Linked DNA regions of Homo sapiens: region 1 is linked to region 2. A link means that fine-mapping ties the variant in region 2 to the expression of a gene that starts in the linked region. Tissue or cell type: nasal epithelium. Region 2 holds a variant in brackets; the other region holds the start of a gene. All regions are shown on one strand. Distances are from middle to middle.

Region 1 (8,335 bases), 110 kb before region 2:
GGGAGAACAGGAAATTATATAGAGTGATGGAACCACACAAGAAATTATTTAGGGTGATGGAACTGCTTTGCTTCTGGATTTTGGTCATGGTTACATTACTGCAGGCATTTGTTATAAGCCATTCAACTGTATACCAAAAAGACTGAATTTTACTGTATATGAAATACATAAATTTAAAGGAAACAATAAAAGTTAAAGCCTTTCAAATAATCTGTAAGACAATTAATTGGGTGTGGGGGTTTTTGTGTTCATTTCTATCATCTTTTTTTGTATCTTCTACTTTTGCCACTTTTTCTGAATTTATATTCCCTTGCTTTGTTGCCTCCTTTACTTTGATTTTTCCCTCTCATTCTATTTTCTAGACGAACAGTTTGGCAGTTTTATACTCTAGTTCTGTTCTATAATTGGATGCCCTAGACTAGTACTGCCCAATAGAATGTCTGCAGTGACGGAAATGTTCTACATCTGCACTGTCTAATTCCACAGCCACATGTGGTTCTTAAGTACTTGACACGTGATATAACTGAGAATTTGTACTATTGACCTTTTTCATTATTTGATTTTAGTTAAGTTGAATTTAAATTTAAATTTACATAATCACATGTGATTAGTGGCAATTGTCTTGAACGAAATAGCCCTAATCATTTTAACATTAATATTTAACTTAACAAAGTCTTAAGTGAATTGAATAACTCCTCCTAAGCAATACAAAGATAAAGTCTGTAAACACATCTCCTTTATTTACAGAAGGAAATCCAAAAACCTACACATGGAATTCAAAGAAAAAAAAGATACTGCAGCTATTTTCCAGAAAGCTATTCTACCTCTCTCCCACTTTTTAGGAGCCATACACGTATGGAAATGAATTCATGACAGCTTAAGAATATCTATATGTGCCCTCTCAGTCACAAGGTTTTGTGTTGAAATGGGTGAGCTACTTAAGTTGGGACAATTAGATGGCAAAGAGAAGTTTCCTCAGGAAACCAGGATAGACTCATTATAGGGAGAGTAAAGCATCTGATATTACTGCAGCTCTATTTGTCACTATGCAGAAAGCCAGCCAGGGGATAACATGAAAAGCAGAACACAGAGACTGAACACACAAACAAGTCCTTAAAGAAACTGTATACCACTGAATTAAGAGCTCAGCTGAATTCTGGAATGTCCACTCATGTGAACCAGCGAATCCATTTTATTGTTTCACAATTAGAAAATATTTTTACTGGAAATGTGGAAAGCTCTTATTGATATAAAGCCTACTGTGATCTTGGCACCATACTACCTTACCAGTATAGAAAACAGTATTTGCCTACCATATTCTTGAATTCTCCTTATAAAGCATCAAATGCAGCTATCCTGTTCCCCAAATATGTTTTCCTGTGTACACGACTTTACTTAGGCCATTCCTTCATCCTTGATACACTAGTGAAATGTTATTCATTCTTTTTAAAAAATAACTTAGTTTTAGACATACAAAATGCATAATTAATGTACATAATTAATGTATGCAACTTGATGAGTATGGAGATACATTATCACCACAATCTATGCCATCAACCTATCTATCACCTCCCAAAGTCTCTTCCTGCCCTCTTATTATTTTTGTAATTAGAACACTTAACATAAGATCTATCATTTTAGCAAGAACTTGAGTATACAACAGTGTTATTAACTATAGGCACCCATGCTGTACAGATCCCTAGAACTTATTCACCTTGTATAAGGAAACTTTGTACCCCTTGACTAATACCTCCATTTTTCTCTATTCCCAGCCCAACAACCACTTCGACACCTATGAGTTTGACAATTTTAGATTTATTATTCATTAATAAATCATTTCTCATATGACGCTGCTGTAGTTTCCTAAGTCTGAATTAAGCATTCTTCTCTCTGTACTCTAAAATCACTTGTTTATGTCTCAATTTTGTATTATCATTTTGCATATTTTGAGCAAAATAGTGTGGGTCAAAAACCAGTCTCTGCAGTCTGATGGACTAGGTTTAAATCCTTGCTCTGAAGTCCATTACTTCTGCAACTATAAGCAAGTTGAGCTTCAGTTTCTTCTTTTATAAAATAAGTATGATAATAATACCTACTGCATAGTTCTATTAAGTGTTAAATGAGATAATACATATGATGGGACACAATTCTAGGCACACAGTGTTTCCTCAGAAAACATTAGCTAATTATTTTTGCCTGTCTACACTTTCCAAGACTTTAAGTGTCTATATTGTTTGTTAGTCATCTTGTTGTCTTAACATACGTTTAGCATTGTTAACTCTATCATTTTGCTTTCCACAAGCACTTATGTGTATGAGCTCCCCAAATATATTTTAAACTACCTAAGAGAAGGGCTTATAACGACCATTGTTTAAGAACTTATCTCCAAGATCCTCATATGGCACTATAGTTAGACTATCACTCCTCTGAGGAGTTGTAAAAAAGTAGATATACCTTTGAAACTTCAGGTCTAGTCCTCTGGTCATCTTCCATAGCGCTAAATGACTTGTTTTCTTCAGTCTTCATGGAATTCATGATGAGTTCAAAGAGAATGTAACTAACTTCTACTACTCGATAAGATGGAGAAACAAGGATTGAATTTATTCTGCCACCTGAAATGTCTAAAAAAACCAAAAAAACAAGATCTATGAAATAACCACTTTCAAACACTGGAGATCAGGTGGTGTGGGACCTCATCTCTGATATCTGAGAAGAAAATCATATGAGGTAAGCCCTATGGCTATTTAGCTTACTGTATGGAGTTTCCAAGGCATATCTTAGGAAGGAGAAACAGGCAGAGTCTAGTAGTTTCCCTGATTTGAGAAGACAAGCAAGGAGTTTTGGGAGGCCAAGATGACTGGAGCTTGTATGACAGAGTACTAGGGAGAAGACAGCCACAGGAGCACACAGTATGAGAGATCTGCAGTGGGTATCCCTTGAGATTTCAGCTTGGTCAATGCATGAGTGGAACGAAACTGTTGAAAAGGAACAGGAAAAGAAGTACCCAAAAGAAGCAGATGTAACAATTTCTGAGGCTCATACAGGACTGTGTATAATTTCAATTCCCAAAAATCCGACTAGAAAACTTCATAATTCATGAAGTATCAGGGAGACTACTCTGCAAGGTATTTCTTCCGCAGTAGGACAAAATTAGCCCTAGTTCTGCTCCCACCTAATAAATAAAAGCAAGCTTCGAAAGTATAAAATGGTTTCCATGTAAAATATGAACATACTAGAACAAAGCTCAAGAATATTGATAGGAATGTAAAAATTTCTGGCACCCAAAGTTGTGAAATTAACAAAGCTTGATATCTAATAAAAAAATCAGCAGGCACTTAAAAAGTGGATAAATATGACCCATAATGACTAGAAATATCAGTGAATAGAGACAGGTCCAGAAGTGAGAGAGAAGATAGAACTAGCAGTCAGAAACATTAAAAGTCATTACCTTGAATTTCTGGCCAAAATGGAGTAACAGGGACTGGATTTCCCCCTAGTATGAAAACAAAACAAAACAAAAAAGAGCAAAACATATGAAACAATGGTTTGCAAGGAACTGGACATTATGCAATTAAGGACAGTGACAATTGAAATGTATCCTATAATCCACTTTAGCAGACTACCTTGAGGAATTCCAGGCCAGTGTGGCAAGGAAGGGCAGCAAGACAAAACCAGTAGGAATTCCAGATTTAAGGAGACAAAGCTGAGAGACTAAGGTGACAAGAGGTCACAGGCCAAAGACATGGTGGGAGACCTGCACAGAGAGGGAACTCTGGATATATGAAGAGGGTTCCCCTAAAGCATTCAGCTGTGTACTGATCAGAGCAGCAGCTGAGAAAACTTTCCAAGGCCAGGAAAGAACCACCCTAAAACTGTCATAGTCTAACTTTCCACCAACCCTCTCCCTGTAACCCTTTTAGGGATCCCCATTTCCTCATTTCTAGATTAAGGACTTTGGCTCAGATGAAACTTTTATTGTTCGTGTGAATTGGTTCCTCTAAGCTTTTTAAAAAGGATTCCAGATCCCACCCTCACAGACTCTGATTCAGTATGTCGGGGTGTGGCTATGGAATCTGCATTTTTACCTGCCTCACTCCACAACCCCCGCCTCAAAGGCGCACCAAGTTCTTTGAACAGCTGCCTCTGTCACCGCAGGATGACCTCAATGCTTTCCTAAAGCCCCAGAACCTATGAAGGTAACCTGTGCTTGAAGCTGTGCTTGCTTACAGAAACAGAGACTGGATGTCAGTAACCACCGTGCTACAAGATGGGAAACGAACTTAGAAGCGCTACCCTAACCTGAATCCTTGCTGATTACCATACCTCAATCTGTGCCTCGGGGAGAAACGCAGCTTGCTAGGCACATGTAGTGTTGGGTGGCAACAGAAAATAGGAGACTGCCACACTCAGCTGTTTCTGGAAAGCCCCGTCTCTTTCCAGAAATCCTTGCTTTCCAACTACCTGCCCTAAAAGACCTTAAGAAGCACCCTCACACTACACTCCAGGCACTTTGAGCAGGAGCTCTCCTACTCCATTCCTTGATCAGTGAATAGTTTCTGCTCTGCTTAACCGAACCTGGTCTCCTTCTATGGGCGCGAACGGCACCGGGCAGGGAAAGGACCCACCAGGGTCAAACGACCCTCTCGAGATTCAGGAACACCCAGATGATCTCTAAGTATCTCTTCAGGAGTACAACTCTTGGCCTTTGAAGCTGAGACAGGGGGAAGGGAATTACAACGGGCGGCTGCCCAGCTCCCCATCCAAAACCCCCTTGACTTTGGGCTGAGGTCCTTCTGCCTACTGCCCTTGTCAGCCATCCCCCTAAGAACTCCAGGTCCGACCCGGGAAAAGAAAAACCACTCACAGAACCGGAGAGTCTGTCCACACGGTGCAAGTGCCCGTCAGTGCCCGCCGCTCTGGATTTGCAGGTGCTGGAAAGACTGCTCTTTTATATCTCTCAGCTGAACTTTTCCCGCCTAGAAGGGCTCGCCCGTGCGCGGCAGGAGCCTGGGAACTGACACTCTCGCTGGCCAATGGACGAAGAGTCTCTGGAGGCTGTTTTTCTCTCATTGGATGTAAATGACTCATCTCTCATCCACTGTGGAAGCCAATTATCATCACTCCAGACAGTGATTGAAGGGAAGGACCGGATGAGCGCGCAGCGCGCGCAGGTGGGTCTGAAGGCCGGGCCGAGGGTACTGCGCGCCAACCCGCCCACCCTCCCTATTTGTCTGGATGACCCTTCCCGGTCTCAGTGATCCCCTCCCCGGCACCACTCAGTCCACGGCCAGTTCCCGTGTCCCAGGATAAACTAAGCAATCACCGCCCTGCTCTTTCCCGCTCATGGGCGTCCCCTGTCTCCCAGTGGAGGCTAGGGAGGAGCTGCGCGGTAGCTGGGCGGAGTGGGAGGTGCCTGGAGGTTTCGCGCTTTCTCCGACTTTTGATTGCCAGCGCGCTGGCGGGAGCCGCGCGCTGGCGGCAGCTGCAGGGCGAATAGCCCGCCAAGTTGCTTAGGTGTGTGGCAGTTGCTGCCTTTCTGCAGCGGCGGGGTGGGCGACGGTGGCGGGATGAGCATCCAGGCGGGATCCTTTGGCGGCAGCAGCAGAGAGAGCTCCACCCGGATAATGCAGAGGCCCAGGCTCCAGCGGACTTCAAGTCCCAGAGCAGGCTGCACCCGCGTCTGCGTGAAATCTAAAGGGACTTGGCCTGATCACAAATGAGCTAACTTCGCGGCGGGGCTGGCGAACACAGACAATGCCAGCCTGGAGGAGGCAGTGGCCAGCACTGCTTAGGCCTCGTTCCCAGGACGCGCATTACTGAGTGCTGTACTTTACCCTTTGGATGAAGGCTCCAGAGTACGACCTCCCCAAACTGATATCAAAGAAGTGCTTTGCATGGGGCTTGAGAAAACATCTTACTGTTTAAGAAAAGAACGTCTTACTGTCTGAGAAGCTGAATAGAATGAGATGCCATCAGTATTGGGTGTTATTTTTCAGAAGTTGCTCAAAGAAGGAGAGAAGATGGTTAAGTGGGGATGGAGACAATTATTTTGTAACTCATAGAAGGACAGATGTTTATGTAACAGTTGATAGTTTTGGTGGAATAATCATGAGCATGTTTCTGAAATTAATATAAAATATACAGAGACCCCTAAAATCACTGCTTAAATTACACGGGTCTTGAGGTGTTCGGAAAGAGCAAACTTTGGAAGTATAATTGTAAAAATAATGTCATACAGACAAAGAGAAGAGAAAACTTAACGACAGCTTTCTTAAATCGCTGTTATTCTTGAATCATCTGAAAGCAGTACACGTGCCTGGCACCAATATACATCAGAGAGTAAATCATTGCACAAGGAGACTTGATCTTCTTTTTTTGTAGAATCTGGAGGAAACAAATCTATGAAAAGCAAGAGATGGTAGAGAATGGTGTTGTCGAAATTGCCTGACATCATTGGAGATAGAGAATTTGCCCTGGTAAAAGGTGCTCCTCAGGGAGGAGCATCTGCACATTCCATTAGCATAAAGCCCCTGGTGGGCCATATGAAGAAGTCTGGATTTTGCTATAAATGTGAAATTTATTTTAAATGGAGGATTTGAAGCAGGGGGGTAATATACCCTGACATATTTTAAAAAATCACCCTAGCAGCGTTTGTGCGGGGTAAAGACTCTGGGAGGACAAGAAGAGATGTGGAAGGGAGAAGGCAGCTAAGAGTCTGTCCCAGGATTGCAAAGATGTTGGAGCCCGACCTCAGATGGTAATGGTGGAAGTGTTAGAAATGGCTGGATTCCACATTTATTTTGAAGGGCCAGCCCTTGGAATTTGCTTATGGATGTTCCATAAATAAGAGAAACAGAGGGCTCAATGACGATTCCTGGGCTTTTGACTTGAGCAACTAGAAGGATGGGGAAGTCTGAGGACAGAGATGCTGTGTGTGTCAGGAGTGGGGTGTGTGTGTGTGTGTGTGTGTAAAATTCTACTTTTGACATGTCGAATTGGAGATGCTAATCCACTCCAACTGAAAAATAAGGAGGGAAGTGGACATTCAACACATGATGACAGGAAGACAGGGAAGCTGGGACTTATGATGGTAACAATGTTGGCCATTAACTGAGAATTTTTTTTTTTTTTGACACAGAGTCTTGCTCTATTGCTCAGGCTGGAGTGCAGTGGCATGATGTCGGTTCACTGCAACCTCCACCTCCTGTGTTCAAGCGATTCTCATACCTCAGCCTCCTGAGCAGCTGGGATTACAGGAGCCTGCCACCATGCCCAGCTAACTTTTGTTTTTCTAGTGGAGATGGGGTTTCATCATGTTGGCCAGGCTGGGGTCGAACTCCTGGCCTCAGGTGCTCTGCCTGCCTCAGCCTCCCAAAGTACTGGGATTACAGATGTAAGCCACCACGTCAGGCCTAAGAAATATAATTAAAGTACAGGGAAAATTAAAAGAAAGTTCACAGAGAGATATCACGGCAAATGATAAATACAAAAGCCTGCCTTGTTTCCCATACCCCCTGTGTCTTAGATTCCCTGAATTTTACCTCCCAGTGGACCGTGCTTGTCCCTTTGTAATGGCGCTCCAAGCAGCACTGCTGCACACCAATTCCTGAGCTTCCCTGCTTCTTGAGCTTAGGAATAGTTGTGCTTCTATTTCCTGTTTATTTGCTCATCACTGGAGTAGCAACTGAACCACACAATTGGGATAAGTACCCTGAGGCCATTTTGGGAGTAATCTTCCATTTCTTCCTTACGTATAAAACTGCCCCTCACAGAGAAACTGTCTAGAGTGATAGGTCCAGAGTAGAGCTCTAGCTTTGCTTTACCCTTTGCAGCTGTGCTCTGAGAGCTTTGATGCAATCCCACTGCAACTGGAATCAGTGACAGAGTAGGGATGCTCAGGGAATCTGTTGGGCCACCAAAGAAAACTCACTTCTAGCTAATGCTTATCTGGGGCTATGGAAGTTGTCTAACATCCCTGGGGACAGAGTGTTTGCCCTGAAAAGGAACATTCCCTTGGCACAAAGTATCCTGTTGGCTGGATTTTATTATAAATGTGACAAGAATGCTTTTGGCCAGTAACTGGTGGTTGGGTCAGTTTGTGTTTTGTAAACCCATAAAGAGGAAAAGGCTCTCATGTGGTTGGGAGAGGTGGGAATGGATCATGCACTAAGGTCAGGTCTGGTGAAGTTAGGGAATAAGGCCAGTGTTTACGAAGAGTGATTCCTTCATGAACCCCTAAAAGATGCTCTGGAACACTACCAGTAGGATGATGTCTGTATGTAGAGGTGCAGATGACATGTTCTCGGAATACAGAGGAAGGCACCACTGCCTCTAC
Region 2 (8,335 bases):
AAAAGTATTAATTGTACTGTGAGGAAGGAAGGACCACTCCACAAGACCTGCGTTTTGAACGATAACGGCTGTTGGAGAATGCACAGTAGCAAAAATCAAGCTGGAGTTGGGCCAAGGGATGTATTCTATTTACTTGTGCTCACTGAATTTTTTCTTCAACTAATCCAATTTCTTTAGTTGTCTCTGGAGTTAATGTTCTTTTACTATTCAATTCTGGATCCCCTCTCAAGACAGAGAACAAATTTGACATGGCATAAGTAGGGATGCCTAGAGTTGGCCAAATCCAATTAATATCTCCTAGCAATTTTTGAAAGTCATTTAATGTTTTTAATGTGTCTTTTCTTATTTCTATTTTTTGTGGTTTAATTTTCCTATCCTCTACCTGCACTCTGAAATAATGAAAAGGAGTAGAGGTCTCAATCTTATCAGATGCTATTGTCAGCCCTGTGTTTTAAACCTCTGTTTGCAGAAATGTGTAACAGCCAATTAATTTGTCTCTGGTTTTTGCAGCACACAAAATATCATCAACATAATGAATGATATAATAGTCTGAAAATTTGTCTCTAACTGGTTGAAGAGCTTGAGCTACAAAAGTCTGACAAATAGTTGGACTATTAAGCCTTCCCTGAGGCAACACTTTCCACTGAAACCTGGTGGCTGGTTCTTTATTATTTATGGCTGGTATAGTAAAAGCAAATTTTTCAAAATCCTGTTTTGCCAGAGGAGCGGTAAAAAAGCAATCCTTCAGATGAATTATAATTAAAGGCAAATCTTTGGGGATTATGGCCAGAGAGGGCAACCCAGTTGAGAGAGCCCCCCAGGGGTTGAATTACTGCATTGACAGCTCTTAAGTTGGTCAGCATGCCCCATCGGCTGGAATTTTTATGAATTACAAACACTGGAGAATCTAAGGAAAGAACATTGGTGAAACATGTCCTTTTTACAATAGTTTTTAAACTACTTTATGTAGCGCCCCCAACTATTCCTTAGGGAGCAGCCACTGTTTGACCCAGACGGGATGCTGCAGGGTGAGTCTGAATTGCTCCTTCACCATAGTGAACTGCAGGTTGGGCAATAATGGGTGCCACAAATGAGTCACAGTGAGCCTAGTTTCAGGCTCCCTCCTCCAGCACTCACTCGGCTGAGGAGGAGGTGGCCATCCTGGTTTTAGCCCCAAATGGCCCTGATGGTTCTGGACCTTTTTTTTCTAATTTTAATCTTTCAGGATATATTACCACCTGTAATTGATTGTAGCCAATATTTTGTGTTGACCAAGCCATTAAAGATCTGCTACACATTTACAATGTGAACTTTTCACACATTTCACAATTACAATGTGAAATGGCATGAATTTTTAAAAAATGAATGAATATAAGGGAAGCCAGTTCCTAATGATTCGGGTGTTAACATGGATTTTTGTGGATGCTTATTGGTCCCTTTTGCAACATAACTCTCAATGAGTAGCCCAATGAACCACCTTGGAAGCACTGGCCCCATCCTAAGTCCTCCTAGGCTTCTTGTCCTTATTTCCCATGCCTCATATAAGACTTTACATTGGAGAAAAACTTCATCCCCTACTGTTTTGTTCTGTTGCATTATAGGCATACAGCACCATTTTCAACATAAAACATAAAAACCCATTCAAAATGGAGGTGATGGTAGATGCCTGGACAGATTACCAGATCATCATTACTCAGCCTCAGAACCAGGTAGGAGCAATAGTTACTGAATACCAGGGCAGTCACTCTCCAGACATTCTCTGTGTGGCAATGAGGGAACTGAAACTGAGGAGTGGTGAGAAGAATGTTGACACTGTTGACGTATGCAGGTTTTGGAAGGGCTGTTTGGGAGAGAGGGTAGGGCAGTGAGATAAGGCTTGAACTTAGATCCAGTGATCAATAACCCTGGATGTGTAAATAAAATTAGGATTCCAAGCACTCAGTCTATTCCATCAAAATTCTGATCATAGGACTACATCCCAACCTAGACTTCTATGGCTGAAAGTGATTAAGAAGTGTTTTCACCTGCGAGGACTCTCAAGTGGAAGTGTCATCAGCAGAGGGTAGGCAGACATGTAGAGCCAGACCAAGCTGTCTATTCTAGGTACTATCTGGCTCTGGAATGTTAGTTCTTTCCAAAAGTTTATCTATTCACATGTACTCCAAGAGCCAATCACTGAGCCAGCCTCAGAGTCCTTCCTGGGTTAGGATTAGCTCAGGTGTCACCTTGCCAAAAACCCGGAGCCTTGCCAAACCTGTTTCTTATATTTTTTCCATACCTTAGGCACCTTCTCTTTTAAATCCTTAACATACACCATTTTGGTTACACTTCCCATTCGAGACAATGGAGCTATTTACTCACCCTCTCAAGGGCAGCTCACTTTAGTGCCCTAAAAGAAAGACACTATCTTCAGTGTATAAATAGTGAGTTATTCTTGGAGCGACTGCAAGGCCATTTTCTACACCTATCTTAGAAAAACAGAATGTTTCAAACAAGTTAATCTCTAGTATTCTAGGCCTATGCAAGAGTATTTTGTAATTGTAGGGCTATGTATGATATTTGTTGTATCTGGAGATAAAAAATGACTGGGATCATTACACCAACTCTTACCACATCTTCACCAAAGCTCCTGACAACTTAGAGGAGGTCACGCTCCGAGGTTATCAACTGGGAGCAAACTTTCCAGATCCAATCTAACTAGTCTGAGTTAAAAGAAAAGATGCGTGGTTTATTCCTAGCTGATATGGAAGGTATAAAGCAGTACCTGTCTTTCTCCTCTCTCCAGGTTGACAGGAGGGCTTGGATGAAGCAATAAGAAAGGTTGCAACTTCAAAATCAGTGCAGGTAGATTACATGAAAACCATGCTCTTTATACCGGAATTACCAAAGAAACACAAGACTGCAAGTAATGACAATATGGGGTTATTTAAAATGGGTGATGATAAGAAGTGAGATTTTACGTTTTACTTCCCAAATTCCTTGATAGAATTATTGAGTTGCCACAAAGGCTGTACTTGGAAGTGTAGAATTTGAGACTAAATTATGATGGGCTACAAAATTGCATGGGTAAAGAAAGGGCGTCACGTTAGGAACTGTGTGCTGAGCATGAACAGAGCCTTCATTAGACAAGGTCTTTATGCATATTATTTCACTTAGAGCTCACAAGAGTCCTTCGGAGAGGGCAATGGACATCATGGTGGCATCAAAAAATGTTTACTGAAACTATTTATATCTTACAAAATGCTACATGCTTATAGAAAGTATATAAGCATACAAAATGAAAAATAAAATCTGTCCTCTTGGGTTCCCCTGCTAGGTGTAAATAATTTTGACACTGATATGTATGCTTTTAGTACTCCATATGAGTTATGTATTTATTTTTGCAATATGTACACATAATTTACGGCACTTTCTGAAATGAATATCATCATAAATAGATTATTGAACAGTTGTATAAATATTTCTGAAAGATGAATTACCAGAATTAAAACTGTTGAGTCAAAGACTATGCATAATAAATGAATGATATTTCTAAACTGGATGGTAAGATTTTCATAAATTTAATGTGTGATATCATAACTTATGAAACAACCTAAACATCCAGTAATGGGGAAATAGAAAAAATCATTATGGTACATTAAAACATTAGAATACTATGAAGCCATTACAAAGAATGAAGCAGCTCTACATGACAGATTAGAAAATATTTCCAAAATAGTTTGCTATGTAAAAAAACATGAGGTGGATAGAACAATGTATATAGTATGCTACCATTTGTGAAAATAAACAAATGTATGTACATATCTAAAATTGCATAGATTTATGGGAAACTTGTACAAAAT[A/G]TATTGGTATTAGTGGTTGCTTCTAGAGAAAGTAATTGGGTAATAGGAGATCAGAGAAAGAAGAGAGATTTGCTTTCCTCTAGTAATCCATTTATGCTTAATAATTTTGTTACTAATTGAAAAAATAAATAGAATTTAAACACACATTCACAGATATGTTTGATTTAGCCAGAAAAGTTAACAGTCTTCAAATACTGCTTTGCCCCACCAGTGTTCCCATGAGATTGTTAAGGGGAACATATACACAGGGAACAATGATAAATGGGGATTAAATTATATTTAGTAGTATAACTCTGGAAGTCTGGCATGAAGTACCTGCCCTAAGGTGATTCCTCTAAGCCTACGCATGGATATCTTTATATCTTGCCATTCTAGGTTTGGCTATCCACAGGAGAGGGGTGCAGGAAAGCGTACTTGAGATCTTTCAGGAAGCAAGCCCAGGATCAGGTTAGGCATGGAAGTGAGCAAAAACAAAGCATCACCCATAGAAAACTTAGCGTTCTGTTACCCACCCACTGGCAAACATGAAGTGACTCTGAAACTGACAAACTTCTCAAAAGTCTTCCTCCCTGGAGAGGGGCAAAAATTCCTGGAGATCTTCTCTCTTTCACTATTTCCATATTTACAGAGGATATTACTATAATTTTACAAACAAGAAAACTGAGTCTTACATAACTTTTCCAAAAGAAAATAATCAGGATTAGAATCCCAAAGGTTAGTACCAAAAATTTAGTATTCTTTTTCCTATATTGCAGCTTCTTAAACTGCGTTTCTGGGTATGTGATGACAGGCTTTGGGACACATGAAGATGTAAGATCAGCATTGTTCTCATCTTCCTGTAAAATATGTTTGATTGGAATATCTGTTCAACGAATTACTATCTTGTATATTTAGATATTTTGTGGAGTAGAACTCAAAATGCACATGATTTCATACACGCATCTTTCAAGTAAATTCAGCCACGTGGAGGGCTTCTCTGGTCTATATCCTCACTCTTTTAAAGACGTGTTCATTTTCTTCCTTAGGATACTTAACGGGACATTTTGAGATGTCCTATAACATATCATATTATCTGTCTGCTATTAAATACACCATAAAACACGGTGTTCCCCCACCAATTATTTGGAAACATTTTGAAGCAGGAATAGAAAAGGTAGTTGTAATACAGCTATTGCCTCCTCTAGGCTGTAGGATCCTTAAGGAAAGGAATGGTGTTATTGGAATTTCAGTGTTTGATAATATTGGCTGAATAAAGGTAATTTTTTTTTTCTTCATAGGGAAGGAAACTTTTCAAACATGTTCTTAGGTGTTTCACATGCAGGTCTTGTAAATGAACACTGGGCCTTTGGGAAAAATGAGAGGAGCTTTAAATATATTGAACGCTGCATCCAGGATTTTCTAGGATTTGGTGTGCTGGGTCCAGAGGCACAGCTTGTCTCTTGGCTTGTGATGGGACAGTCCAGTGAGTTGAGAATGGGTTATACTGTCCCCAAACACAGAAACCAAGGCAACATGTCGCAAATTGGTTATCATCTTGAAAGTTATCTTTCTCAGAAAGAAATCCCATTTTATGCTCATGCGGCAGATAATAGTGAGAAAATCCTACAGGCACTGAAAAATGTTGGGTTTAAGATTTGACCTTGTGGCTGGCATCAGTGGAAATGCATCCCCAAGAAATATTGTTGATTAGTTCCACTGTCCATTTCAAATCTTATCAGTAGAAAATCATTAATTCAAACACAAATATGATGATGTACATTAGCACAAAAGACACCTGATTATCCAGGATCTGGGTATTATTTAAGCTCACCCTTAACATTTTTACCCTCCTCTTCCTCTGTATTCTTACAGAAAATTAGAAGCTCAATCCTATGGTCTCATAATTTCATTTATGGTGACAGACATCTCAGAATTAAAATCACCCAATGCCAATCATTAGTGTCAAGATAACCCTTTATAGCAACACTTTCTTAAATGAAGATGACTTCTTTGATGAAAAAAATTGCTTTTTATTCTGAGTACCCTCTGAGGAGCTTTGAGATGCTCAGCTAAATTAAATTTTGTGGCTAGGAGTGAAAATTTGGTTTTCTTACTTGCTTTTTATCACAAGGGGTTGCTAGGTTGAGTTGCAAATTTAAAGCTTAACTTTAAATTTTCAAGATGATTCTTATGTCTATGATGTATTAGTTTTCTTTTGTCATTATAACAAATTATGATAAATATGATTACTTAAAGCAACACAATGTGTTATATTTATGGCAGTCGGAAGTTCAGAATAGGATTTATGGGGCTAAAACCGACATGTTGGCAGGGCCAGCTCTTTCTGGAGGCAATGTGGGTAAATCAGCTCCCTTGCCTTTTCCAGATCATAGAGGCTGTCCTCACTCCTTAGCTTGGGTCTCTGAATCACATCATGTTTTATCTCTCTGCTTTCATCATCATCGCATCACATTCTTCTCTTCTGCACTCACATTTCCTTCTGCCTTCCAATTTTTTTCTTTCTTTCTTTCTTTCTTTTTTTTTTTTTTTTTTTTTTGAGACAGAGTCTCACTCTGTAGCCCAGGGTGGACTACAGTGATGTGAACTTGGCTCACTACAACCTCTGCTTCCCAGGTCCCAGTTCAAGCAATTCTCCTGCCTCAGCCTCCCAAGTAGCTGGGATTGCAGGCATGTACCACCATTCCCAGCTAATTTTTGTATTTTTAGTAGAGACGGGGTTTCACCATGTTAGCAGAGTTCCAATGGCAAATATGAATGGCAGAGTGGAAGACCAGAGCCAAAGGAGGCCACCTTTTGATCATGAAGTGTAATTGTTTTTAAGATCAGCGATTCAGAATTGTAATATAAGCGCTCAAATAGAAAGTTCTAATGATAGTGCATGGCATGTGTCCTTTCCATCATCTAGATTTTCCGCTTTTTTTGTCTGGCTCACTCCTACTCACTCTCCAGTCCTCACCTTAGTGGTCACTTCCCCTGGAATGCCCGTGACCCTTTAAGATAGCAGTGGCAAACACCAAATGCTGAACTTATAACCAGATTCACATGCAACACCTTGCCCTGTGCCATGCTTCAATAATGATGAGGAAGTGAGAAAGAGTAGGAGAAAGGAGGCACAACAAATGTTATTTCCATAGCAGAGGCCCCAAGGCCAGTCCACTTGATTCTCTAGATTTCCTTTTCTGCGTAACAATGATGAAAGGTAGCCTAGGAAAGCCATTTGTCTGAGACTTTACTTTGATACCTTGCTAGTCACTAAACAAAGAGACTGATTCCATTCTTTAGTGTAGCCATTGCCTCAATTCATATATATCAGGGTTATTTATTTCCAATAAAGTATCCATATAGATTAGGTATATTCTAATGACAATTTTATTAAAGTCCTTCATTTATCTTCCAGATAGCAGATTCTGTCAACCACATTTCATAAAGAGTTCTGATTCTAAGAGGTAAGAACTGAGCCTGGCTTTCTAGTTACATGTTTACTACTAAACCCGTCCTTCCCTACTACACTTATGCATATTTAAAGACTATACTCTCCCCTGCCTCCAGCCTGGATTGTAAGTTCCACAAGAGCATGGCTGTGTCTTCTAACATCAAGTCTCTATGTTAGAAAAGCTCCTGGCATATCATAAATGCCGAATAAACATTTGTAAGTGAAGAAACCTATTCTATGGTTTCTTCTACGGATATATTAAGAGATGGCTTGCACAAGATAGCTAGGTAGCTTCATTGTCTAAAATGGAACTAGATTCTCCGGGTATCAGGTCCATTGGTGGTACTTACACGTGGCCTCAAAGGAACAGAACTGCCCCACAAATCTGTGGGAGTCATCATTTACTTCTAGAAAAGAGAAGTAAAATGGACTATTATTCTGATGCAGATATTTCATGAATCCCATGATCACCCGTGCCATGTCGTCTGCCCTTTGGTATTTTTCCATGCTGTAGGCTATTCCTACATCACAAGAAGAGTCCAAGGTTAATCATGATACCGGAGCCCCATCTGGACCCAGCATACAGGCTGCTGGCAGGCCTCCTATACAGTGCTTGATGTAACGCCAGCTCCTCTCATTCTTCCTGCACCTCCAGTTATCATTTACCAGCCCTGAATAAGAGATAACCAACAGGGCATTCTTAAAGTTGGGAGTTTCACCATAGAAAACAAAAAGAAAGACAACAACATTCATCCTCACCCCTGTAATTTCTGGGTGCCATCACATTCTAGAGATCCCAGGGACTCTTCTTGTCTAATGACCCACCATTGCAAGCTGTGTATTTTGACCATTGACAACTTTTATTCATCCCAAAGCATGAATTCATCCTCTTTTCATTCCAAAACTCACTTATGTGAATAACAAAAATGTACAAGGAATAGCAATTATAAATGACCAGCACATGTTTTTGTCTCTCAAATTCATCATCTGGGTGGCCTGACTCAGCTCAGCTTCCAGCTTGCTTTTATTGGAGTCATGGAACTTCAGGATATTCTCCATA

What was found. PIP is the estimated chance that this variant, and not a neighbour inherited with it, causes the effect.
Region 1: it holds the start of FAM111B, and the variant in region 2 is fine-mapped to the expression of FAM111B in nasal epithelium (TOPMed, PIP 0.94).

The regions. Positions count from the first base shown.
Region 1 is chr11:59,103,826-59,112,160 of GRCh38, reverse strand. It overlaps FAM111B (FAM111 trypsin like peptidase B), which reads right to left and starts at 4,924. Exons shown (of 4, transcript NM_198947.4): 1 at 4,865-4,924; 2 at 3,449-3,493; 3 at 2,455-2,621. The coding sequence starts at 2,535. It overlaps LOC105369315 (a long non-coding RNA gene), which reads left to right and starts at 5,436. Exons shown (of 3, transcript XR_007062680.1): 1 at 5,436-8,335. RefSeq lists enhancers at 3,756-3,805, 4,946-5,035.
Region 2 is chr11:58,992,956-59,001,290 of GRCh38, reverse strand. GLYATL1-AS1 (GLYATL1 antisense RNA 1) reads left to right here. Exons shown (of 6, transcript NR_033853.2): 4 at 7,240-7,288. It also overlaps the pseudogene GLYATL1P1 and the pseudogene LOC100287485. Among named protein-coding and RNA genes, the nearest start is that of GLYATL1, 58 kb to the right of the region's middle. The variant A/G (reference allele first, on the strand shown) is at 3,843.